Linked DNA regions of Homo sapiens. The protein of the gene in region 1 interacts with the protein of each later gene in a pairwise test. Each region holds a gene or a part of one and is shown on either strand. Other genes may lie near its edges.

Region 1 (12,201 bases):
GGATTGTACAGTGACATCCAAACGTTTTATTAGCAGCTTTCTCCGGACTTCATATTCATTGGCTATGGCTTGGTTAATTGCTTCTATCTTTTCCTGAAGCAAAATTAAAAAGACTAGTTAGAGTTTAAATCTGCTTGATTCTCTGTCCCAAAAGGGCAAAAACTACGTCTGTGTCATTCATAACTGAGATCCCGGCCATTTAACAGTCAAAAGTTCTTATTCCATATAATATACTAACAATTAATGAAATGATAGGTGACAAAAAGCTGATTCACAAAACATAATGAAGAGTATGTGAAGTACACAATTCTTATTTATCTTTCCCATAATTTACTGTGTGAAGCTCAGCCCAGTGAAGTTTTTGGCTTGAAGGCAATCCATTTGGCAACGAGAAACATGCACCATACTTAATTTCAGTTTACTTTTATCAGCTGTGTGAAATATTTACAAAGTATGAGAAAAGTGCTTCTAATCTTACACAAATAAAAATATTCTGCAGAAATCCTGAGATTCACAAAATGATTCTAAGGGTGTTCAACTAGAAAACTATGTATAAGAAAACATAATTTAAAAAGCACAAAATGTAAGTGTTGACATGAAAATCATAAACTCTATAGTTCTTTACAAAGTTTACTCAAGATGATTACTACTCACCCAGTGGGCTGGTCCCATTGGCTTCTTCAGTAAAGGCTTTCCCACATGATTAGGTGGAACTTTTGCTAATGTTTCCTTTAACTGACACAAAAACATAAATAAATGAATAAAAACTCTAAAAGTAAAACATCCTCATCTTCCCAATTCCCATCATATCTTGCCATCAAAAGAAGATTCCTGACAGAGGCAAAGGTGGAGGATGTTTTGAAATGCAAATGTAAAAGACCCACAAGATAAAGACACTCACTGGTCCCACTCCTCACGCCTACAGAAGTCCTTCATTGCACCTAGAACAGTGCCTGACAACAGTAGGCACTCAATGAACATTTGCTGAATGGATGAATGAACACACAGGAAAATATGGACTATGGATACACTGCTGCTCCCCTGTAGAGTTCAGCCAAATTTGTGCATCATGGTGCTGGTCTACCCCACAATGCAAATGTACCAATTCTTAAGAGTCCAGCAGATAAGCGTATAGGGAATAACTGTGCTTTAACAAATACCGTTCTCTTCTACTCATTTTTGTTAAAATTGCTTGTTCCTAATTAATTATATAGAAAATCTTAACTGATAATGTGTGGTATAAAAATAATTCTAATTTCTTTTCACATACTAGATTATGTTAGCAGTCAACAAATCTATTTTGTCAATTGAAGCATGAGGTTTGAAGTGACTGGATTAAAAAACAAAAATATTAATATCCTTTCTGTCCAGTCAATGGGGAGGAGGGTGGTAACATTTAGTGATAAAGAACTTAAATTGACTGTATCAAAGTTCAATGATAAAATAATTTTTAAAAGGACTGAAATCTTAATCCTTTTTACATTATATCTAGCTTACTTTAGCTTACAAACCAGTGTAAAGTTTCCTTTTTGAAAAAGAAACATGCTAACATGTTTTTAGGAAAATACTAAAATACTAATTTATCTTTAAGGCATCTAGGATTTAAAACCCAAAACTCATTTCGTAACAATTACTTAATAATATATGCACATTAGGTTCCCATTAAGAGAAATTAAATTAATTGCTTCATTTCAAACAAATGTAGGACTATGCCTTTAATACACTACAATTTGGTACTAAAGGTCTTACTTTTTTTTCAATCCCGCTGAAGAATTGGAACATAGTTATATTGGCTGGAGGTTTGGACATTCCTAGAGCAATACATATGCCTTTCAACTCTTGAAAGACCTCACTACCGCCTCCTTCTTGAGCTTTTTTTGGAGGAGCATTCACACAGAGCATTCTGGCAGCTTCTAGTTCTGAGATGAGGTATGCTGAAGTAAACAAAATAAGATTTCAAAATGAGATACAGCTATAGTTATAGTCATAAGTCTGGAGTCACAACTATATAGACCTATTGATATGTAACTGTTAAAGCTGCAAGAATGGATAAAAACAAGAAAGAAAAACTACTTTTACCTGCAAATGAAATAAGAAATAAACTGGTTATGTAATTCAGTTATTTAAGCGATATATAATGTTTAAATGTTAATTTTAAAATAAGCGATTCTCTTTGAAACCGAAGGATCGAGGTAAGTAACATCTAAAAATTTGGAATCTTGAATTCTGGTATTAAGGAACCTCCAGAACAGGGGTTGGCATCTGTTAAAAATTTTGCAAAAGAAGGCAGGTGACCAATTTTTAATGACAATTAATTTTTTTTTTTTAACTTCTCACTACTTGTGAGCATCAATGACACAACTACCTTGCTCTCTTGTCTCCCATTAATTAGGAGCCTGTCCAGAAGAGGTGTGAAACAACATTTATAAGAAGTCAAAGCTTAACTCACAGGAGAAGCAGGAAGGCACCCCAGAGCTCCTTTCCCATGGTCTCCAAATCTTATGTTGCCCTCTGGCTAATCAAAGAGAGCCCTCTTTCATCTATATTCTTCTCAGGACTCCCTTCCCCCTACTTTCCTCACCCCATTCCCTTCAAAACAACCATAAAACCTTCAAAGCACTTTTTGGCATGGTTCCCTTTGTGTCAGTATCATCCCCTTGTGTGCTGATTTCAGCCTGGTATAATGGGGGCTGCAATCTGTTTCAGGTAATTCAGTTGAAGGTATAAATATTCAATCTCATTCCTTTAACATTCCCAAGGACATTTCAATTTTTATAAAAGATGATTAAGAATCATTTGAATCTTAGGATTTCTGGTTATGTGACAAAGTGAGATTCTTCTGACAATATAACAAAACCAGTTTTGGGAAAAGATATTTTCAAGGCCCTCAGGTCCTATTAGAAGTAGAAAAAAGTCAACTTGTGTATCAAATTTCCTATACCCAAAATGTAATGCTAGAAGGACAGAGGCCATAATTTTGGCAAATCATTTCTGAAAGGCTGCCAACTCCTGTTCTAAAACAATAAATACAGCTAAGTTTCTGGAAAGGTCATTCTAAATGGATTTGACACTGTAAAATCTTAACATGTTCCATACAGCAAACTGTATTTATGAGTTAAAACGTCAAAACAGTAAAACCCCACTGTTAAGACAACAACCACTGTTTTTGTACATAAGGTTTCATTAGGACACTGCCACACTCACTCATTTATATATTGTCTATGGCTGCTTTCATGCTGTAACAGCAAAGGTATGTAGTTGTGACAGAGAACTTAGGGCCACAAAGCCAAAAATATTTACTATCTGGCCCTTTTAGAAAAAGTTTGCCAACTCTTGTTCTAGAAAATCATATACTATATGATTTAATATATTGGTTCTGTAAATTTGGGATAACATAGTTCAGGTATTCACAAAATTAGGTTACCAATATAATTATCATGAAAAAACTTTAATCGTAATCAGTATGTTCAAAGCACTGGGAAAGGCACTGAAGATAACATTTTTTAAAACATCAAAAAGATGACCTCTTCCGATAATCTAGTTAGGAATAAAGAGTATATGCAAAAATAAAAGATGAATAGTTCTTCATCTATTAGGAACTCAGACATCTTACTTAATTTACGTAAGGGCAACACTCTGAGAACCATAAAAGGCCAATGAAGAGCCAAACAGAGTCCTTAATCTGATACATGAGAGCTTTTCAGCCTCTCACTCAAAGGCTATTCTATTTTTCCAACAATTCTAATGAGGCTGGTTTGTTTTCCCCCCTAAAATACAATGTGATAAAAGATTCAAGTTAGTGAGGTAAGGGTGCTGGAAAAGTAAAATTATAGCATCCAGATGTGACAACTGATACTTCAAAAGATGAGAAATATTTACATAGACCAAGTCAAAAATGAGTACATGTAGGTAAATGCTAGAATGAAAGAGAGGTTACAAACTGGGGAGAATATTTTAGAAAGGGAGAATCGGCAGAAGCAAAGATAAAGAGGGAAACAGTGTGTATATATGTATGTATGAAGAATATAAAAAGTGAGTGACCTCTAGATGATTTAGTCATTTAATTGAAGAGCAAATAGTGGTATATTCTTGAAAAGCATTTGAGGTGATGATAGCAGATTAAAATAAAGTCTAGAATTATGACCCTGAGTCCAAAATAATGTTCACTGAAGTCTGCTTAAGAAACAGAAAAGTGTGAAAGGCATTTTATACTTACATTCAAGTGGTTTGTATAAGTATCAGTGCTAAAAAGGCCAAACTCTGAGCTCTTTGGAAGAATTAGCTATTCAGGGTCATTAGTAAGCATTCCACACAGCTATTATCTTCCTATGTAGATAACATATTCTAAGTGCCAAATATTGGTAAAGGATAAGCAATGCTATAAAGGAAGAATCAGCTGAGTATACTGCTATTGAATCAGTTACAGAAATTGTACAATATGAAGAATATTAAATGAATATGTAAGAACTACCAGCAGCAATATCAGTATCTAAAGCAACACCTAACCTTACGTGCACATTCCCACAATAACAATCATTTGACAGACAAAGGGGAAGTTACAAAAGTGATTCTGGAATAACTTAGTGCCTAAGTATAATGGCTATGAACACTTTTTTTTTTTTTAACAGAACCTTAAAAACTGAAGTTGTATAATTTTTTCAGAAACCATAATAGAGTTGTAAAAACAAAGATTTTAAAAATCCTCTGAATTGTCTGTCATAATGAGAACTATAATAGCCAGTTAACCAAAGCTTAATGTAAATGTGCTTCAGAATGCTACATAAATTCTGAGTTAAGACTATAGGTTGTATTTATTGGAAAGTTTATAGAAGGCAATAAAATTTTTGAATCTACTTACTGTTTTTCAGTGTGAAGAGACAAAACAGTAGTAAGTATGTAAAAAACATGGAAGGAAAGAACTTTTCATAAAAACTCATTTCTCAGAATAAGTACCAGAACAATGCAAGTATTATTCCAGAATATTTACAAACAAAACCAAAATCCCCAATTACCCAACCACAAAGAAATAGCAACAAGACAAAATACTTTAAATTACATTAACCATTAACTGTATCTACTATTATAAATGCTTACTCTCCTCAAAGAAATGAATTTCTAAACAAAATCTCCATTATTTCCATACTATCTTCCTAATATACTTAAAAATGTGCTTCTAGTCTAAAATGTAAGTTTAATGATCACACACTTGAGCAACACTCCAAAACTACCAGTGATCACATTAGGAGAAGCACAACGGCCTGAGTACCACTGAGGCTGAAATATTGAAAGAGTATCAGTTACAAAAACAATAATGCTACCAGTGCACACGTCTACCCTCAGCTCCTAAATTGGAAATTTAAGAAAGTTTTATTTTAAAATGAATTTTGAATTACATTCATAATGAAATAAACAAACAAAAAACCATGGTCAGTTTATTAGTCATGGAAAACATAAACAGAAAGTAATAGCTATATTCTAGTAGCCATGAACTTACTGAGCAAGAGGAGGCAGTTCTTCTGAATGAGAAGGCGCTTGGTCACATCCCCAGATGTCAGTGAAAGATACGGGCAGTTCATCTCCCCTAGTAGCCCACTCACCTCAAGCTGGAATTCTTCAGCTTCACTCGGACCTTTTAAGAATTAAAATAATCTTATTTAATGATAGTGATTATTTTTCCATTAGCATAACAATTATTATATATAATTGAAATTGTTAATAGGATTTTCATAACTTGAGTTTTTTCCCCTTCTAATTTATCCTTTCTTACACCACTGCAAAGTTTCTTCTTTTTTTTTCTTTTTTGAGATAAGGTCTCTGAGGCCTAGGCTGGAGTGCAGTGGTGTGATCAGGGCTTACTGTAACCTCAAACCCCTGGGCTTGAAGGATCCTCCTGTTTAAGTCTCCGGAATAGCTGGGCCTACAGGTGTATGCTACCATGCCTGGCTAATATTTAGAAAATTCTTTTGTAGAGACTAGGTCTCAGTATGTTGTCTAGGTTAGTGTCAAACTCCTGGCCTCAAGTTATCTTCCCACCTTGGCGTCTTCAAGTGCTGGGATTACTACAGGCATGAGCCACTGCTCCCAATCTAAAATTTTCTTTCTCAGTGTTCATTAGGTCATTCTCTTATTTGGGAGTCTTTAATGGTTCCCTAATTTCTCCCTCATCCAATCTGATTTTTTTCTGTCTGCTTTTAAAGATTCTTCATAGCTGCTTAGGTTTGTTCTTCCTAGCATATTCAGCTATAATCACCTACATTCCCTCCACAAATATTTCCTGTGTGTGCCAGGCCAGTCTCCTCACTGTCCCATGAATAGCCAGTCTTATTTCCACTCTGTGCCTTCATTTAAGTTATTCCCTGTGACAGATATGTCCTCTACTCTCTTCCCCTCTAGCAAATCCCACCCATCCATCAAAGCCCAGTGGCCTTGCTCCTTGATGAAACCTTCCTTGTACTTGGCTGAAACTTCACCCTCGTACTTGCTGATTTCCTCTCTCTGTGAACCACAAAGTGGTTCAGCATTTAAGTACTGTACTTGGCCGGGCACGGTGGCTCATGCCTGTAATTCCAGCACTTTGGAAGGCCGAGACGAGTGGATGGTTTGAGTTCAGGAGTTCGAGACCAGCCTGAGTAACGTGGCAAAACCCCGTCTCTAAGAAAAATAACAAAAATCAGCCAGTTGTCGTGGCACATGCCTGTAGTCCCAGCTACTAAGGAGGCTGACCTGGAGAATTGCTTGAACCTGGGAGGCAGAGGTTGCAGTGAGCCCAGATCGCGCCACTGCACTTCAGCCTGGGTGACAGAGTGAGATCTTGTCTAAAAACAAACAAACAAAAGGACTGTACTTATCTCCAGTTGTTTAATTTGTGCCTAACATTCTCAATTAGAAAAAATTTGAAGACAGCAAACATGACTTACAGTCTTGTATTCCCACAGCATATAAAAAAAGGTATAGAGTTCACTGGGTGAACCAAAGGAAAAACAAAGCTCTTTCTTCATTATTTTGATTGTTCTCTATTCACTATCACAAAGGGGAAGAAATTAACAAACTCTGAGAGAGTCACTTGATCACCTGAGTCCATTTTCTAATCTGTAATACAGGAAGCCTACATTATGAATATTTTGCAAACTGTGATCTGTGAGCCCTTGAGTTCCACAGAGCTCTTTTAGAGGCAGCTGGGAGGATGAGGAGGAAAGAGCTGGGCTAAAGGTACCTCGTCTCTACTTTGTTAGAATACCTTCTAACCTGTTTTACATGTTAGCTTCTGTATCATGTTTCATTTGAGAAAAAGGGGCTCCAGGTTAAATAGAGGTATCATCTAGTACTGGTGTTTTCAAAGGTTCCTACAGTCTCTCAAACATCTGGTCAAGAGGCAGTATAGCACAGTGTTCAAGCACACTGGCTCAGAACTTGACTACTGTTCTGGGGTTGAAACCAGGCTTCACCCCTACAGGTTGTATGACCTCAGGCAATGTATTTAAATTCTCTGGGCTTTCTTGTTAAAGGTATAACAGTAATAAAACCTGCCTCATAGGGTTGCCCTGAGGTTTAATGAGTTAACACATATAAAGTGTTTAGAACATAGTGAGTACACAATAAATGTAAGCTGTTGCTATCATTACTGTTACACTATACTCTCCTTAATAATTAGAACTGAATGCAACTAACACGTACACATTAAATATACCAGCATGCAAGCCATCATCCTCCACAAACTAACACAGGAACAGAAAAAAAACACCACATGTTCTCACCACTAAGTGGGAGTTAAAAAATGAGAACACATGGACACAGGGAGGGGAACAACACACACCAGGGCCTGTTGCGGGTTAGAGGGTGAGGAGAGGGAACTCAGAGGACAGGTCAATAGGTGTAGCAAACCACCATGGCACACGTATCCCTATGTAACAAACCTGCATGTTCTACACATGTATCCCGGAACATAAAGTTAAAAAAAAAAAAAAAAAAAAAAAAATTATATATATATATATACACACACACACACACACACACACATACATACACACATATATATATACACACATATATATACACATATATATATACACACATATATATACACATATATATATACACACATATATATACACATATATATATACACACACACACACACACACTAGCATGCAAGAAGGTGAGCTCTTCAAAACGTGATTATGTGGAAAAAAAGGAATTATATGTATAGCTCTCCATAAGGGTGGGTTAACAGGTGAGTATTTTCCTTGGTCTCCTATTATAGGTTTACCTACAGCAGGAAGGAACCAGATGGTAGAGTGGTAGGTTCCAAGCTTTTGCCTCTTTTGCAGTGTCGACAAACTAGTGCAACAGTGGAAACAAAATTGGTAAATGCAGAACAGCTCTCAGATCCATAAATTTGATTGTCCTGGATCTCACTGTGATGTATCTAACGATGCATTCTTATGATAAACAAAATGTCTTAACAAAGTGTTCTCTTTCTCCCCAAGCATAACAGAATAATAATGCATTTACTCTACATGCTATAGATGCTTCTAGAATCTGGTAATCCTAAAAGAAAAATATCCCAGTATCTAGTTCTAGCCATCAATCTAGGATCTTACATTTAACATCTTACAAAATATAGGAAGTTCATACATTCTATGCTTGTGGTCTCCATTTCTCTGTATCCCAGTAATAGGGTCTTTTCAGCATCCACGAATTTTTAAGTTACATGACTTTATTCTGGTATTTCAACTTCTGAATCACCTCTAAAAACAACGGACGGAAAAAAAATCTTGGCTTCTTTACAAATTTTTTACATTTACAAAAACTTGCAACTTTCAGCTTTAGTATTGATAATGTTCAGTTGACAATACCTCAATGTTATTTTTATACTTTGTACCTAAAAGTGAATGTTTACTTACTGTTAGTTGCTTGCACGTTTTCCTCTAGTTTACAGAGCACTCTTAATTCAGACACCAGCCAAGCACAGAGTTTGGTAAACTCGGGGGAACTGGCTCCAGCAGAGACTGCCTGAGAGAGCGCTCCATCTTCCAACAATGGGCCCTTGTAACTGGTGAGCAAGAAATTACATTTCAGAAGAAAATACAATCATACCTAATATATTACAGATAAAACATATCTATGTCTTATTTATATAAGCAATAATTTAATAAAGATAAGTTAGTACTTATCTTTATTTTAAATGGACAAATATAAACATAATTTAGAACTATACTGAACCATTACAAAAAGCAGCTAAATGGTAGCTGCATTTCAACCTTTCAAAATGTAGGTGAATATCTAACAGAATTGCATATACTACTAAATTATGTCAACTTCTGTACATTTACTAAAAGCTTCCATTGTAAAAAGATTTATTTTCTTACTGTAATTGAATTGAGTATTAAAAGCAAATTAACAAGTAATAGCTAATTATACTGTAACTTATTTCAGAAATAAAACTTAGGTTATCTTTTCTAAAAATTTTCCAGAAAACAACTAGATTATGTTTTTATTTTGAGATGAGGTCTTGCACTGTCACATAGGCTGAAGTGCAGTGAAGGCACAAGCCACCAAACCTGGCTTTTTTTTTATTTTTTATAAAATAGCCAGGGGTCTTACTATGTTGCCCAGGCTTAGTTAGGTTTTTAATGACTTCCTTTAAAAGTAAAAACTTTCCAGTTAACCATTTATATCATTTTTATAAATTTAATGCCAGTTAAGACTAGTAAGACATTCTAGTACCAAAGAAACGTCAGGTTAGGTTAATAAATATTGGCAGTTAATGAACTGGCGCATCTGAATCCTAATCCTTTGTAAGTGATTCCAATATAATTTTAAAAAATTTAAAAATGTTCAAACATTCATAAAAGATGACAGTCATAATGAACTCCAATCACCAATATTCTAAAATATAAGATTTCTGTCACTCCAAGTAATCTTAAATACATATTATTCAGATTGCTTTACATTCTCTTAAATATTGATAATAATGCTTACTTAAGATGATACAATAAATATGCTTAAGATAATATAATGTTTAGGCCAGGCGTGGTGGCTCACGCCTGTAATCCCAGCACTTTGGGAGGCCGAGGCAGGTGGATCACGAGGTCAGGAGACCAAGACGATCCTGGCTAACACGATGAAACCCCATCTCTAATAAAAATACAAAAAAATTAACCAGGCATGGTGGAGGGCGCCTGTAGTCTCAGCTACTCAGGAGGCTGAGGCAGGAGAATGGCTTGAATCCAGGAGGCAGAGCTTGCAGTTAGCCGAGATCGCACTACTGCACTCCAGCCTGGGCGACAGAGCAAGACTCCGTATCAAAAAAAAAAAAAAAAAAAGATAATATAATGTTGAGAACTACAGGTATGTTAGAGAAATGACAGTTCTCAAACCCTTTAAAATATGATTATAGGTTTATACAGTATATGCAACAAAATGAAAACAAATCATACATAAAAAAATGAGATCACATGTAGTCTGGCATCTAGATTTATAAACTATGTATTATTAGACACTGAAATCAAAAGACTAGGCCTAGAAGTTTCTCCTTGAGTTTCACATTTAGACTTCATTAGTTTATTCAACAAGTAGTTACTGAATTCCTACTGTGTGCCAGGTAAGAGATAAAAGATGACTATTTGCCAGGATCAGTGGCATACACCTGTAGTCCCAGCTACTCCGGAGCCTGAAGTGGGAGGATCGCTTGAGGCTAGGAGTTCGAGACCAGCCTGGTCACCAGAGCAAGACCTCATCTCTTAATAAATAAATAAATAGAAAAGGTAGTCATTTAATTCTAATATTTCTCAGTTAATCCTTTAAAAGTACATTTCAGTTAATTAAGGCTGACTTTTAATATTTGAATGCCACCAAACTAAGTAGTTAAGGTTAAAATTTATAACAGTTTTCAGAAAATCCATGGTTTACATTACACTCTATGTCAAGTAGTTATGTGATTACAATTACTACAGTAACAATTACTTGTACAGTACCCAAAAGAATAAAAAGTTAAAAAAAGGAGGGGGAAAAAAAAAGACAATAATGGGAAGAAACAGCATCCGTGGCCAATTCTTAAGTGACCACTATCCATGCAGAAAGACTACATTTAATAAGGTCTACCCCCTTCCTTTCATTCCACTCATTCCACTACAGTACTATAGTGTCATTTATTCCAGAAAGAAGCTTCTAGGATTTCATTTCCTTTCCCAGTAAAGGGACCCTCCTCAGGGCTCCTCACAGCATATTTTCCCAGTATCCTGTGAACCCCTCTTCCACCTCACCTTGTACTCTAAGGGCCTAACACTGCCACAAAGAAACTGTTCCTAAAAAAGTCCTAATGAATGAATGGTTTCATGTGTGAACAAGCGATTCAGTCTGAGATGTCAACTAAAGAGACTATTTTGCTGAATGACTTTAACATATGCCCTAATGAAAGAAAGAAGCCCCCTAAAGTCTGGAATATTTATAAAAATTCAGAGCAAGTTTCCAAGAAAAGAACAATAGTATTTCACTGTGACAAAGACAGATGATAAGCAAGACTACTTCGTTCCTAAAAATTTCTACTAGGGTAGTAAATTATTCAAATAGGCAGACTTTGGGAATCCTCAAGGTGTTTTTTCCTAAAGAAAGGTTTCTCTCAAAGGTTTCCTTGTCATGGAAAAACCTAAGAGAAAATTTTGATAAAGAACTTGTTACTTAGAAATACAGCTAGCTAAATCTGTACTTTGTTTTGATACCGTACCTGTAGGTAAGTATCTAACCATACAATTTGTTTCTGGAACCACATTTAGCCCAAGAGGGTCCACGTTCTCAAGTTTAATAGAGTACACTGATCTGGGTGACCCAGTGAGATAACAAACCCTATTTCCAGCTTCTAGATACTGATGAATTATGGTTGAATAAATATCAGGAGAAGGAGAGACACAATGCAAAACAAATACGCAGGTTCTTCGTGGGTGAAGACGACCCTGGTCTAATGGGGCTCAACGAGGCAGAGTATCACAGAGTCAAAGCAAACTGCTGGTGGTTCCCAGGGACGTGGTGATAGGTTAGATGCACAAGCGAGCTGGCCAGCGGAACAGATGCAGCGCCCATACAAGTGGCTTAGCGAAGCCTGGGTGCATGCAGAGATGACTGGGCAAAGGAGAAATTTTGAGAGAAGTGGGGTGGGGTAGGAGGAGGGGCTCAAGATGGGAGTAGGAAATTTGGAGAACAAGT
Region 2 (13,157 bases), on another chromosome or scaffold:
AAGGGTTACACAACTTACACCTGGGACTAGAATCTAAGCTTTCTGATTCCTAGTCTCAATACACATAGAGCAATTAACTAAAAAGAATAACTTTAAAAAGGATATACAATAAATCATTATCTATCTAAACCTTAACTTTCATATTATGGAAATGCCACTGAAAAGAGTAGCCATGTAACATACATGTAGGGTGTAACCAAGTAATTTAAATAAATGTCAGAAGCTGTATATTCAAATAAATGTTGCATATAATAGTATTATATGTAACATTAATTATATGTAATATAAGATTATAATAAAATCAACTTGAAGGATAATAACTGTTTAGGTTCTGATATGTTGAAATTATTCTTACTGTCATTCCAGGTGTTTCACATCAGAAATACGTGTGTGTATATGTACATATATACACACACATACATACATATTTCTTTTTTTTGAGACAGAGTCTTGTTCTGTTGCCCAGGCTGGAGTGCAATGGCACAATCTTGGCTCACTGCAACCTCCGCCTCCTGAGTTCAAATGATTCTCCTGGCTCAGCCCCCTGGGCAGCTGAGATTACACACATGCGCCACCACACCTGGCTAATTTTGTGTTTTTAGTAGAGACGGGGTTTCGCCACGTTGGCCCGGCTGGTCTCGAACCCCTGACCTCAGGTGATCCACCCATCTTGGCTTCCCAAACTGCTTGGATTATAGGCATGAGCCACCGTGCCCAGCCTAGACAATTTTTTATATTCTCCAGATACCTTTCTACATGCAGAATTCTGTACTGTCTTGTACACATGAATAGACCATAAAATGTAATATAAACAAACATAAAATCCTAAAAATATATTTCAAAGTTTTAAGAAGTCCACTGAAAATTTTAAAAATATTTTCTAAGAGCAAAGGAAAAGAATACAGTAGTATTAATAGTAGTAGTATAGAGGCATTGGCAGTAATAAGCTTATCACACTTGCTATGCGCCAGGGACTTCTGTGAACAATTACTCATTAAAAACAAAGCCACACTTATGAGATAGGTATCATTGTTACCCTCACTTATTGATGAAAAAATTGAGACACGGAAAGGTTAATAACAATGATGTAATTTATACAATCCCTAATTTATAAAATCACTGATTCTAGGGAGAAAGTGCCTAATCACACTGCTCTCGCAAATGAAAAACTTAGCCTTTTTCAAGAAAAATATCTCACTCATCAAATATAACTGATGAAAATGTTTAATGTAAGAAATGACACTAAAAGCATTTTTATTCTAATCTGAGAATTCTTTTTTATGCAAAAGTGTTACTAAAACTAAATCAATGGGAAAATGATTCAAGGCACAAAAATATGATATACCAGAGATCATTTAAGGACTATTTCCCTAGCATACAACAAGGGATATCTGTTTACATTAAATATAAGCATAAACACGACAGTCTTGGTTTTCAAGCATCTCAATAATGTCTTTTTTTGAGACAAGGTGTCACTCTGTCGCCCAGGCTGGAGAACCTCAGCCTCCCAATTAGCTGACACTACAGACACAGGCCAGCACACCCAGATAACTTTCTATTTTCTTGTAGAGACAGGGTTTCATCATGTTGCCCAGGCTGCTGTCAGAACTCCTGAGCTCAAATGATCTGCCACCTCAGCCTCCCAAAGTGCTGGCATTATAGGTGTTAGCCATCACACCTAGCCAATGTCTTCTTTTAATATAAGAAATAGTACTGTGTTTAACAAAAATTCTGATTTGGGCCATAAAGGGAAAGCGAAATATTTACATCATTATTTATTTAAGAAACTTCATGTTTCTAGAGAAAACTATTTCTACCTAATACTGAAAGCTTGGTAGGAAGACATAAAATAATTTGCTCTAAAAGCAAAAGACACATCTAAGAAAAAAGCAAAATCCCTGAAATCCAGCTTTCCTAACACTGATCATTATCATTTTTTTCTTAAAAGAAGAAAGTAATTTTAAGCTCATCTTCATGATTTTTCAGACAAACTCTCTGTATTTTTACTTTACTTCCTAATTCATTACCTTTTCAAAGAACTTGGGCCAGTCGCTGCTGTGGATGTTTCTTAAATTCCCTCTGTCTTCAATCTTGTAGTGCCTGATTTTCTGGTCTTCAAGCCAAACGATGAAGTTTCTAAATTCTGTTTCATCTGCAATAAAAAATATCACATAAATAACTAGAAGCACTACATAAAATACCTCCTTCTCAGGTATATGTTCAGATATATGTTCTTGTGGAATTTTCTTAACTTCAAAATACTAAATTAATTGAACCAAAAGAGGGAGTTGAAAGTACAGATTCTGGAGTTGAAAGTACAGATTAACAATGATCTGTTCAAATCCTGGGTCCAGATACTTACTGGTTGTGTGAACTTGGGATAATCACCCACATTTTCTGTGCCTCAGACTCTTCAGCTACAAAATGAGGGTGCTAATAGAACTTACCTCATAGAGTTATGAAGATTAAAAGAAGTTGTTTTATTTAAGAAGTTTCTTAAATAAAATAAATACGGATAAAAACAGTGCCTGGCACATAGTTTTGCTATTTAAGTGTTACATATTAATATTCCAGTTCCTTTGCGGACAGAAAGGGGAAGGAGGGCAAGGTTAAATTTATAGCAAAGTAATAAAGTAAAATATACAACAAAATAATAAGTAAAAGAAATTAAATGACAAAAAAGACACTGTGACAACTGTTGTCATGGAATGTTAACTGCACATTAAGTGCATAATTGTTTCGTTTAATCCTCCCCATACCTCTTTTGAGGTAGGTAATATCCCATTTTACAGATAAGAACATTGAGACTCAAAGATTCCAATCCAGAACAAGGCTCTATTGTCACTGATACTTTTTTGTTAAAGTAGAAAAACAATAGATTATAATTTGATATGCTTCTACAGGCGATCAACAAAACACTGTCATCCTGCTTAGAAATTATTTTCAATTTGTGAGTCAAATTCAAGCTTCCATTATAAGGTCTTGAGAATTACACAGTGGTCTGAGTATCACAAGTTATACTTGATCACTTTCAAACTTACCAGTCTATCACAGGCCACAACTATACAAAGGAAACGAGTAGTGGTGGGTAGCAGTTTAGTTACAGTGAGTAGCAACGTTATTACTTTTTAAAATTCTAATGCTGTAAAATCCCAAATACCTTTGTATTCACAATTCAACCTTCCCACTCATCTGCTATTAACTTTTTTGCAACACCACATAACACAACTAGCCCGTTACTACACGCGCTTACCCTCCCACTGTGATCGGTCCTGATTTCATTGTGTACTGTCTCAAACTGCTCAGTGGGTTCTGATTGCTTCCACCCCTCGTCCCTTTAGCTCCTGGCAGGCAGTGAACTAGTCTTCAAGTTACTCAGCACCTTCCTCAGAATCCAGCACCGCGCTGGCCCATAATTAGCAGGTGCTCAAGGTATCGCCTAATTACCCAGGGAACCATGGAGTTGAATAGTGAGTGAGAAAGACGAATGCTCTCCCTTTTATGTACAGAGAAGGTAGTTACGTGATGCTTGGAGTTAAGCAAGTGCAGAAAGTAACATGCCGAGACAGGAGTAGGTGAGAGGGCTTTAAAGGCGGGAAGGGGCGGCGAAGAGCCGAGGTACGTGGCGACCCAGAGGAGAGGGGCCCGGAGGCTGCCGGCGGAAACCAGGCCGCCGAGGGTCCCGACGGGGAGGTGGGGTGCGGGCACTGAGGCTGGGACCTCCGCCCAGGTCAGGGACACGCGGCCGGGCTGAGGCCGCCGCCTCACCTTTGCAGTTGAAGCCGGCGGGGTTGTGGTAGTCGAGAGCCGTCAACTTGCGTCGGAACATGGTCCCCGCTTCTCGCTCTGGTCCCCCGGGCCTCGGCCGGGAGAGAAGAAGCGAGGTGGAGCGGGAGGCGCAGGCACCGGCGACGCGGCGAGAGGGCGGGCAGGCGCTGAGTCGCTCCGAAATGACGGCGGCCTTCGCCAATCGTGGCTTAAAAGCGGTGGCCGCCGGCAAATGCCCACCAATCGCGGCTCCGGCTGGGGAGGCGGGGCCACGTCGGCGCACGTCGACGCTCAAATAAACTTTATTGTCAGCTTCCTGGTTGTACAATAGGCAGAAAACCACCGGGAAGCCACTTTCCTTTCTTTCTTGCTATAGCATGCAGAGAATAGTATATGTAGGCTTTTGGTATTCGCTGTACCTCCCGTTGGATTACAGAATTACTGTTTAGTGTTTTGAGTGCATTCATTCATTTTATTACTCCTCCTACATAACAGGTGCTCTTCTAACACTGGTAATACAAAGACTACAAAGCAAGGTCCCTATAGTAAGATGCTTTCAGACTAATTGGGAGTGATCCACAGGTAAACATACAATTGTTAATACGATGCGATCGTTCCAGATATCCTCAGCCAGAGTGAAATCTGAAGCCGAGATCGTCCCTCACTCCCCCTCACCCTCGGTCACAGCATCCAGTAGGTCACCAATTCCTGCCATTCTGTCTCTCCTAACTCTCAAATCCCTCACCTCCTTTCGGACCCCACTGATACAGCCACAGATCAGATCCTCATCACTTTTGCTTACTCTAATTATCTGATTGATTTCTTAGGGCCAGTCCTGCGTTCTCCAAACCATTCCTCCATACAGCGATGAGAGAGATTTTTCTAAAGCAAAAACCTGTACATAACTTTCTCTGCTTATGTTTTAGTGGTTCCTGGTTACCCCCTAGAAATAATCAAAACTCCTTATTGTATTTAAGATCTTTCCTGATCCAGTCTCTACTTGCTTTTCAGACAGTGGAGAGAGAGCAGTGAACAAGACAGACCAGGCCCCTATTTTCATGGAGTTTAAAAGGCTAATGAGGGAAACAATAAACAGATAAGTATAAACTAAGGCTTGAAGATGGTGAGGCATTCACCATGCAGTCAAAAGGGTAACCTAGTTTGAGGGAAGAGGATGTATAAAGGCAAGAAATGAGCAACAGCATGGCCCAGAGGGACTAGAGCTTATAGGGGCTGGAGGGTGAGAGGGAATGACAGCTGATAAGACTATAGACAAAGGCAGGGCTCTGATAAGGAAAAGCCTCTCATGGCAAGCTAAGGGGAGCTATTGAAATTCTTGGGGGTAAGCCAACTATGTACGTTTCATTTCATTTCATTAATTAAGATTTTAATTAAACACTTAGGATCTGAGGAGCATACAAATGAGTAAACTACAGTCTCTATTTTCAGGAAGTTTAAGTATAATGACAAATATAGATGTGTAAATAAATACTTATAATCTGGAGTTAGAAAGAGTAAGTGAATTACAAGAAATATAAAATGTACTACAAAGAAGTACAGGCCAGGTGCAGAAGCTCATGCCTGTAGTCCCAGCACTTTGGGAGGCTGAGGTGGGAGGATAGTTCAAGCCCAGGAGTTTGAGACCAGCCTAGGCAACATAGTGAGACTTTGTCTCTATTAAAACTAAAAAAAAAAAAAAAAGAAGAAAGAAAAATTAGCCTGGCATGCTCGTGTGTGCCTGTGGACCCAGCTACTCAGGAGGCTGAGGTGGGAGGATCACTTGAGCCTGCAAGGTTGAGGCTGCAGTGAGCCATGATCACACCAACCTGTGCAACATGTAAGACCCCATCTCAAAAATAATAATAATAAAAAGAAGTACAGAGGCTAGAATACAGCTTTAGTTTTAAGGGGGCACTGTAAGATAATCTGTATTTTTCAATTAAGGTGCTTATAGAGTGAATCAAGAAAATCAGTTCAAGAGTGTCTCATTTCCAACAAAATTTGATCAAAGATATGGCTATAATCTCATATTGTAGTGCATGCTAGTTGTATAATTAATGAAATACTAACCAAAAAATGAAAAAATGAACCAATCATGGAAGGGAAAATAATAAATACTTACATATAAATAATAAATTAAAAAGGGGGAAAAATACAATTGCAGACCATGAATTTCTTTAAAAAAATAAGGAAAAACATCTCTTACCATTTGTTTTCTGAAATTGACCTTTCAAGGCAAAAAATGAAGTTGTTTGCTCCTGGCCTAGTCTTTCCACTTCAGGGTCCCCATTGTCAGCAACTTAAGACTGTCCCTAGTCATCAGCCCCGGCCACCACCAGGAGTGGGGAGGTTGGAGGAAGATTCAGATGATGCAGAATGCTAAAGTGTCAGGGGATACTTGAGCAGGGGATAAAGCAAACTTTGGGAAAGAAGTATAAAATAAATATTAATCCATTTTTTATGTTAAAACCCAGTTATCTTTTTTTTTCTCTGAATTTGAAGGAGTTCTTTGACCTATTCTGAATGGAGTGTCCAACAGTAAGTGAATCTTACATAATTCCATTTCTGAAGACCAAGCCCTCTGTATACTTCAAGAAAAGGAAACCAACTTTTGTGTGTGTGTGTTTTCATAAGTACCCAGTGTTTAGCTCCCACTTATAAGTGAGAACCTGTGGTATTTGGTTGTCTGTTCCTGTGTTAATTTGCTTAGGATAACGGCCTCCAGCTGCATCCATATTGCTGCAAATTTGGACATAATATTTGTTCTTTTTATGGCTGCATAGTATTCCATGGGGTATATGTACCATATTTTCTTTATCCAGTCAGCCTCTGATGGGCATCTAGGTTGATTCCACGTCTTTGCTATTGTGAACAGTGCTGCAATGAACATGAGAATGCATGTGTCTTTTTGGTGGAAGGATCTGGAAATCAACTTTTATTATCAAATGACCTGAACTCCAATCTAATGGTTGATCATAGGTTTGACAGGCTATTAATTCATCTGTTGAATTGTTCAGTAAAGTGTTTAGAGTGTCAATTACATGCCAGGCAATCTTGTAGGCATTTTGGAGTCATCTGAGAGCTTAAACACAACAACCCTGACCTCAGGGAGCTTATCATTGGGCAAGGGAAGACAAACAGTACAATAATAAATAAATACATTATTTACTATTCAGAAGGTTCTAAGTACTATAGGAAAATTATAACAAGGTAAGGGGGGCAACAAATAGCGGTGGGGATATAATGGGTGTTGCAGTTTTAGACAAGATGGTCAGGTTGGGCCTCATTGAGACAGTGAAGTGTAAGGAAAGCCTAGAAGGAGGTAAGGAAGTTAGCCACACAAATATCTGGGGAAAGAGATTTCTAGATGGAGTACTCAAAAAAAAAAAAACCAAGATAAGAATGGTTTTTATATTTTTAAATGGTTGAAAAATCAAAAGAATAATAATATTTTATGACATGTGAAAGCTATATAAAATTCAAATTTCAGTGTACATAAATAAAGTTGTATTGGAACACAGCCATGCCCATTTGCTAACTGGCTGCTTTGGTGCTACAAGGGCAGAGTTGAATAAATGCAACATAGACCACATGACTCACAAAACCTAAAATATTTGCAAGGGCATATATGGTTGCAGAAATGTAGAGGTGGCCATTTCAACGGTATTGCCAGGGCAACACATTATCAAGAAAGGCAACCAGTCAGAGGTAAAAGTTGCTCTTTGAAGGACAGTTTCACAACTTGTAACAACTTTTAAAGTCTTGGCAGTTTTACTAGAAGCCTTTGTTCAAATTAGTCTTCCGAAAACAGTGAACAGAACAAGTTGGTAATAACCAGGAATAGCCACAAAAGTCTCTACAGTGCACAGAAAAACAGGTTTTATATTCTAATGAATGTTATCAATTGAACACCCCATGAAATCAGAATTTTTGGAACAAGTTGTATAATGCAGAAAGGTCTCTCTCCCTGGGGGAGCCTCCCGATGAGCAAACATCTCCTTTATCTCTTTCTGAGACTCTTTATGTTAAATATGAAAACTTGCTGCTTTTTAAGGTCAAGCTCTGGAATTTCATGATTTAGCATTAAAAGCAAAATGGCAGGGCAGTAGAACTCAATTTTATTGGTAGAAAACGAATAGGAATGAATAGGAATTTATGTAGTCATGCAAACAGCATAAAGCATTCACCTTCCACATCTAATACTGCAGAGGAAACACTTGCCGAACAGTGAAAACAACACAGAGGACAATACAGCCAAGAAGCACAGACAGGCCATTCCCAAAAATGTCTGGTAGGGGGCTAGATGCAACTTTCCTGAGATGTGATCCAATAAAATCTATTTTATACTTGAGCCAGATTTGGTTGGGGTTTTGTAACTTACAACTGAATAGTTCTAACATGAGGACAGATCCCAGAGAGAAAGGAAAGAAAGATCCACGGACTTGGTGGGACTAAACATAGGATGGGAAGGAGGTGGATGGCTTAAAGGAGGTTTCTAGAAGGTCACCTATCAGAGATGTGATAAGCAGTGAATTCTTGCATAGAAACAGGAGCACCGGTAGAAGGAAACCAGTCTGAGGAAGCTGAAGAATTAAGTTCTGCACCTGTTGAAATCGAAGTCCTGTAGATGTAGCCCATAATCACTACTGAAATGTCAGGAATGAATGTGAGTGAGTGGATGAGATGTCCATTGAGGAGCCATCAGCATAAAGTTGTAGATGGAAACTGTTACAGTAAGGTCCCTGAGGAGACGGGGAAAGAAAAGAGGACTGAAGACTTCATCCTAGGAAAACCCAGTATTCATATTTAAGGAGTAGGAGGAAGAGTCATGGAATATGGGAAAAGTGGTTGGAAGGACTAAGAGAACAAGGAATATACAGCGTCCTAAAACGTGGAGAGGAAGGGGTTTAGGGAGGCAGGGTTGGGGGCAGAGTAACAGGGATCAACATTTGGGTGATAGGATTATGTGGATTCTTCCCCCAAAAGTGACAGAAAAGCCACCTCTGAATGCTTGAAAGCCGGTAATGAATAAGGCAGAGGTTATGGTGTCATATGATATTGACCAGCATACAGTCAAATTTAGATCACCTACTTTACAGATCTCCCATGCATATTCCTGTTCTCTCTTCCCTTTCCCTAGTACCTCAGTGACCCCCACCAGGCAGAGCTGCTAACTGAGATGCCTGCAAAGGCCTGACCTTTCCCTTTGTTTCAAATTCTTGAGAACTAGTCTTTCTCCAAGATGCTAGGAATTAGGGGCTGCTACTGCAGGGACCTTAGAGGGCTGGGAAATCTCATTCCTCAGAAATCCTTTGACCAACTTGTAGAAGGTATTGTCTTGACAGCTGAGTGCCAAACAGCACGCTTTACTTTAGGTTCAGACTTGCCAGGGTTCCAAAACCACAGCACTGAGTTCAGCCTGCCAGCTGAAGAAGGGGCAGGGGATGGTGAACTCCTACAGATTTGCCCTGATCCTGCCATGGCTCTCAGACCTGTGAACATTTTAAGTAAAAGTCTCTTTTGATGAAGAATACAAGATATTCTATCTTCTACTTCAAAGTCTGACACAACTATTGTGTGTTCATGACATACGTATTAGGCCACTCACACATTGCTATAAAAATAGTTGAGATTGGGTAATTTATAAAAAAAAGAAGGTTTAATTAGCTCACGGTTCTGCATGTACAGGAAGCATGGTGCTGGCATCTGCTAGGCTTCTGGAGAGGCCTCAGGAAACTTACAATCATGGCAGAAGGGGAAGTGGGAGCAGGCGTGTCCCATGGCCAGAACAGGAGCAAGAAAGAGAGAGAGTGGGGAGGTGGAACACACTTAAATGACCTGATCTCGTGAGAACTCACTCCACTGTCATGAGGACGGTACCAAGGAGATAGTGCTAAAGCATCCATGAGAAATTTGCCCTTATGATTCAGTGGCCTCCTATCAGACCCCACCTCCAACACTGAGGATTACAATTCAACGTGAAACTTGGGCGGGGACAACATCCAAACTATATCAACATCTAAAGGCCTAGGTAGCTCACAATGAGTCAGTTAAGGAGGATGTCCGACCTGGGTAAAGAGCGAGGGTGGAGAACATTCATTCATTCATTCAGCATGTGCTATGTACCATGGTGGACACTCAGGATATAATGATGAAGACAGACATGATCCTCCCCTTCATGGAGGTTACAGCCCAACAGGGAGGCAGGAAACAGCAAGGCAAAGGAGATGGAGGTAAACAGAAAGGGACCTACGTTAGATAGGGTGGTCAGAGGAGGCCTCATGGAGGAGGTTACATCTAAGCCAGCTATCAAATATGAGCTATTACCGGATTTCCCAATGGGGAAAGGGCAGAGCATGAACAAAAGCATGAGCACAAAGGCCCCTTGTCAGCAAGGGTTTGCTTCTGTGAAACTGAAGGAAGATCAGGGAGGTAGGAGGGTGGTGAGCCGGGGGTTGGGTGTACTGTTGTTAAGTGAGGAGGGAGGCCATGGTGTGGAGTATGGACTTTATTCCATGTGCATCAGAAAGCCACTGAAGGTTTTAAGCAGGAGTGACAAGCTGTGGCTTGGGTTGTAAGATCTTTCTGGGTACTGTGTGGAGAATACAAGGGAGCTGGTGGAGAGTGAGAAGCTGGGAGACCAGTTTAGGAAGCCATCGCAGTGGTGAGGTGAGTGGGAACGGTGAATGTCAGAAGCTGTTGCATTGTCTGGTGTAGCATAATGGATTGGGGGGATTATCCTTTGCAAATTACACTTTACTCTCTTTTCAGCCATTATTGTGGGTGATTGAGACTCATCCGTATGAACTATTCACCTTCGTACCTCCCGTTTACAACTCAGCATTGCTGGAAGAGCTGAACAGCCGCATGGATCATTTTTCAATTATAGAAAAACAAATTCTAAGCCTGAGAGAAAAAGTGCATGAGAAAGAAAGGGAGGAATATAGCTGCTAGCAGACAAGACATATACTTCCCAGCTCCACCACTGTGACTCTTTTAATTCAAAGAGATTTTTCAATTTTCCAGTGAGATTCTGGCCTCAATTCCTGTCCTAGGCTCAGAAAAAGCACAATAGTTTCTTTATACATCTTTTCTTTTAAAAAGCTCCCTGGAAAATATTGTAAATATGCTACTATATTGAGGTTTGATAATAAAGGGAAAAATTTTGCTCTTTATACCCATTTCTACTTGAACACCTTGTTTCTCTTTATTTCTCATGTTTGCTGGGTCATTCCTACTTTAGCGTTGGCGAGTAAGAGCAGCAGCCTCCTGGGAATTTAGTGCTCGGTATCTAATATTCAGTGCTGGGTGTGGGTGTTAGCAAATGCTAGGGAAAAGAAATCTCTGTCATCCTTCCCTTTCCAGCTGTAATCACGTAGAGTTTCCCTAGTGGCATTGGTGGAACCTGAGACCTGACCTCATTGGTCCCACTAATGACTAGGTAGGAATAAATAATTTAGATTGTTAATGAGGGTTTGAGCTATTTCCCCAATGAGCCCAACTTTCCGGCAGCCTCAGACTTTAGAGCTCAGTGGAGTATGTTTCTAAAGCTGCTGCCATTTTCACACCCTTTCCTCACAGTTAGGAAATAGTTGGAATTTGGTTTTTAAAAAAAGTATGGATCTCCTGGAGATGGGCAGTCTTTGATAGCACCCTGGGAAGTAAAGTCTGTCCTAGGCTGTTCATTCATTCCAGGCATTGCTAAGGGAAGTAATACAAAACAGACCACACATGGGAACCTAATTTCTGATTTGAACTTCTTTTCCACACAATTTATAAGTTAAATCACCGTCAATCTGTGATGAATCCATTATGATCTCCTTTTTCAGGAGTTGTGCCTAAATTTGGGGGTACTTCTGACATGCCAAGGAATGAGTGGTAGTTAGCAGATCACTTCCACGTCCTTGTAGACCCACATTGGTGTCCCCTGGGCCATTCTCATCTCTATCCACTCTTTGGTTCTTGGTGCACAGGTTTACAGGTTCTCTGTGTCAGGGCTGTACTGCTCTTAGTCATACAGGAAACTCCCACTGCTCCCACACTATCCAAGTGACAAGAGCTCCATCGCCTCAGGAGCCCGGGGGACACTGATCCTCTGCCACAGTGTGGCCTGTGAAGCTGGGCAGCTCAGCCTCATCTGCTTACCTAAAGGATGGCAAACATGGACCCACCTCTCTGCACTGCAGCATGCTTTCAACACATGAACTTCTGGAGGATGTTCAAACCACAGCAACTCCTTTTGGGGATCTCATAGACCAATGGTTCTCAGTGCTGGTCCCTTGAGTGGCAGCAACAGCATCACCTGAAACTTGTTAGAATTGCACATTCTCCAGCCCCAGCCCAGGCTTACTGAATCTGAAGCCATAGGGTTGGGCCAGCAATCTGTGTTTTAACAAGCCCTACAGGTGACTCTGATGTGCTCAAGATTGAGAACAGCTGTCGCAGAGAACTTTGTGGGTTTCATTGTGCTGACTTCTACACACGAATTCCTAACTTGGGCCCATTCCTGGGCCACTGCTCTGTCCTTCCTCCCTTCAGGACCATTCATTTGTTTCTGCTCAACCCCTGAGACCTTAGCAACAGCCCAGGCAGACCCCTGCTTCTGCAGCCTGCACAGCAGGATCCCCCGAGAGGCAGCCTTCATTTGGAACAATTTCTTTCCCACTCCTGTTTCCCAACCTTTCGGGCATTGAGTTGACTAAATTCGGAGTAAGAAATAGGCCAAATCCTCTGTTCCACAAAAACTAATTACCTTCTCTGTCCTCCTCGGTCCTACTCTGTGAGGTGGGGGAGTTCTTTTCCTTCCTTTCTCAAGCACATTCCTCTGTGTTGTCCATGGCCCTCTCCACTGGGCAGGTGGCCCCGAGACGTTGGGACAAGCTCATGTCCCAAGATAGTTTTCTGGCTCCTCTGACAATCTCTGGCCCTAGAGAGAGAAGCATAGGAACATTGAAGCTGGCCAGCTTTCATCAGCCACTGATGCTGCAGCATAAGCATCACAGTTTTCCCTTGGGGGTGTGTACCTCTACTCTTGATTTATGCTCTTTCCTTTGGTTATTTTAGCTTTTCCAGGGATTTTCCATGCCTTCCTCTTTCTCCCTGCCTAAACATGAGTATAAACCCACTTGTTCAATCCCCACCTCTCAGAGAAGCTCCAATTTTGCATTTCTTGGGCTAGCCCCATTCTCTACCTCACAGCCAACATGGCTAAAAGTCAATATTTCACCCTCCACAATAAACCCCCTTGTTCTCTTGCATTTCCCTTGATCCTTTCCCAGCCTAGTGAGTTCCCATCACCCTTTGAATCTCAGTTTTGACTTCAACCATGTGCAGGTTTCCCTGACTTTTCCCCACATCCAACCAAGCCTGGGCACTGTCCACTGTGCACC

What was found.
Region 2: the proteins of FAM98A (region 1) and RTRAF interact in binary tests that used the Homo sapiens proteins (3 or more experiments, as listed by UniProt).

The regions. Positions count from the first base shown.
Region 1 is NC_000002.12:33,586,586-33,598,786, forward strand, and holds part of FAM98A (protein FAM98A), read right to left. Parts: intron 9,053-12,201; coding exon 8,904-9,052; intron 5,630-8,903; coding exon 5,495-5,629; intron 1,935-5,494; coding exon 1,750-1,934; intron 736-1,749; coding exon 655-735; intron 94-654; coding exon 1-93. UniProt on the Homo sapiens protein: Positively stimulates PRMT1-induced protein arginine methylation. Involved in skeletal homeostasis. Positively regulates lysosome peripheral distribution and ruffled border formation in osteoclasts.
Region 2 is NC_000014.9:51,980,312-51,993,468, reverse strand, and holds the start of RTRAF (RNA transcription, translation and transport factor protein), read right to left. Parts: upstream 3,924-13,157; 5' UTR 3,830-3,923; coding exon 3,769-3,829; intron 2,951-3,768; exon of another isoform or gene 2,885-2,950; intron 2,153-2,884; coding exon 2,028-2,152; intron 1-2,027. UniProt on the Homo sapiens protein: RNA-binding protein involved in modulation of mRNA transcription by Polymerase II. Component of the tRNA-splicing ligase complex and is required for tRNA ligation.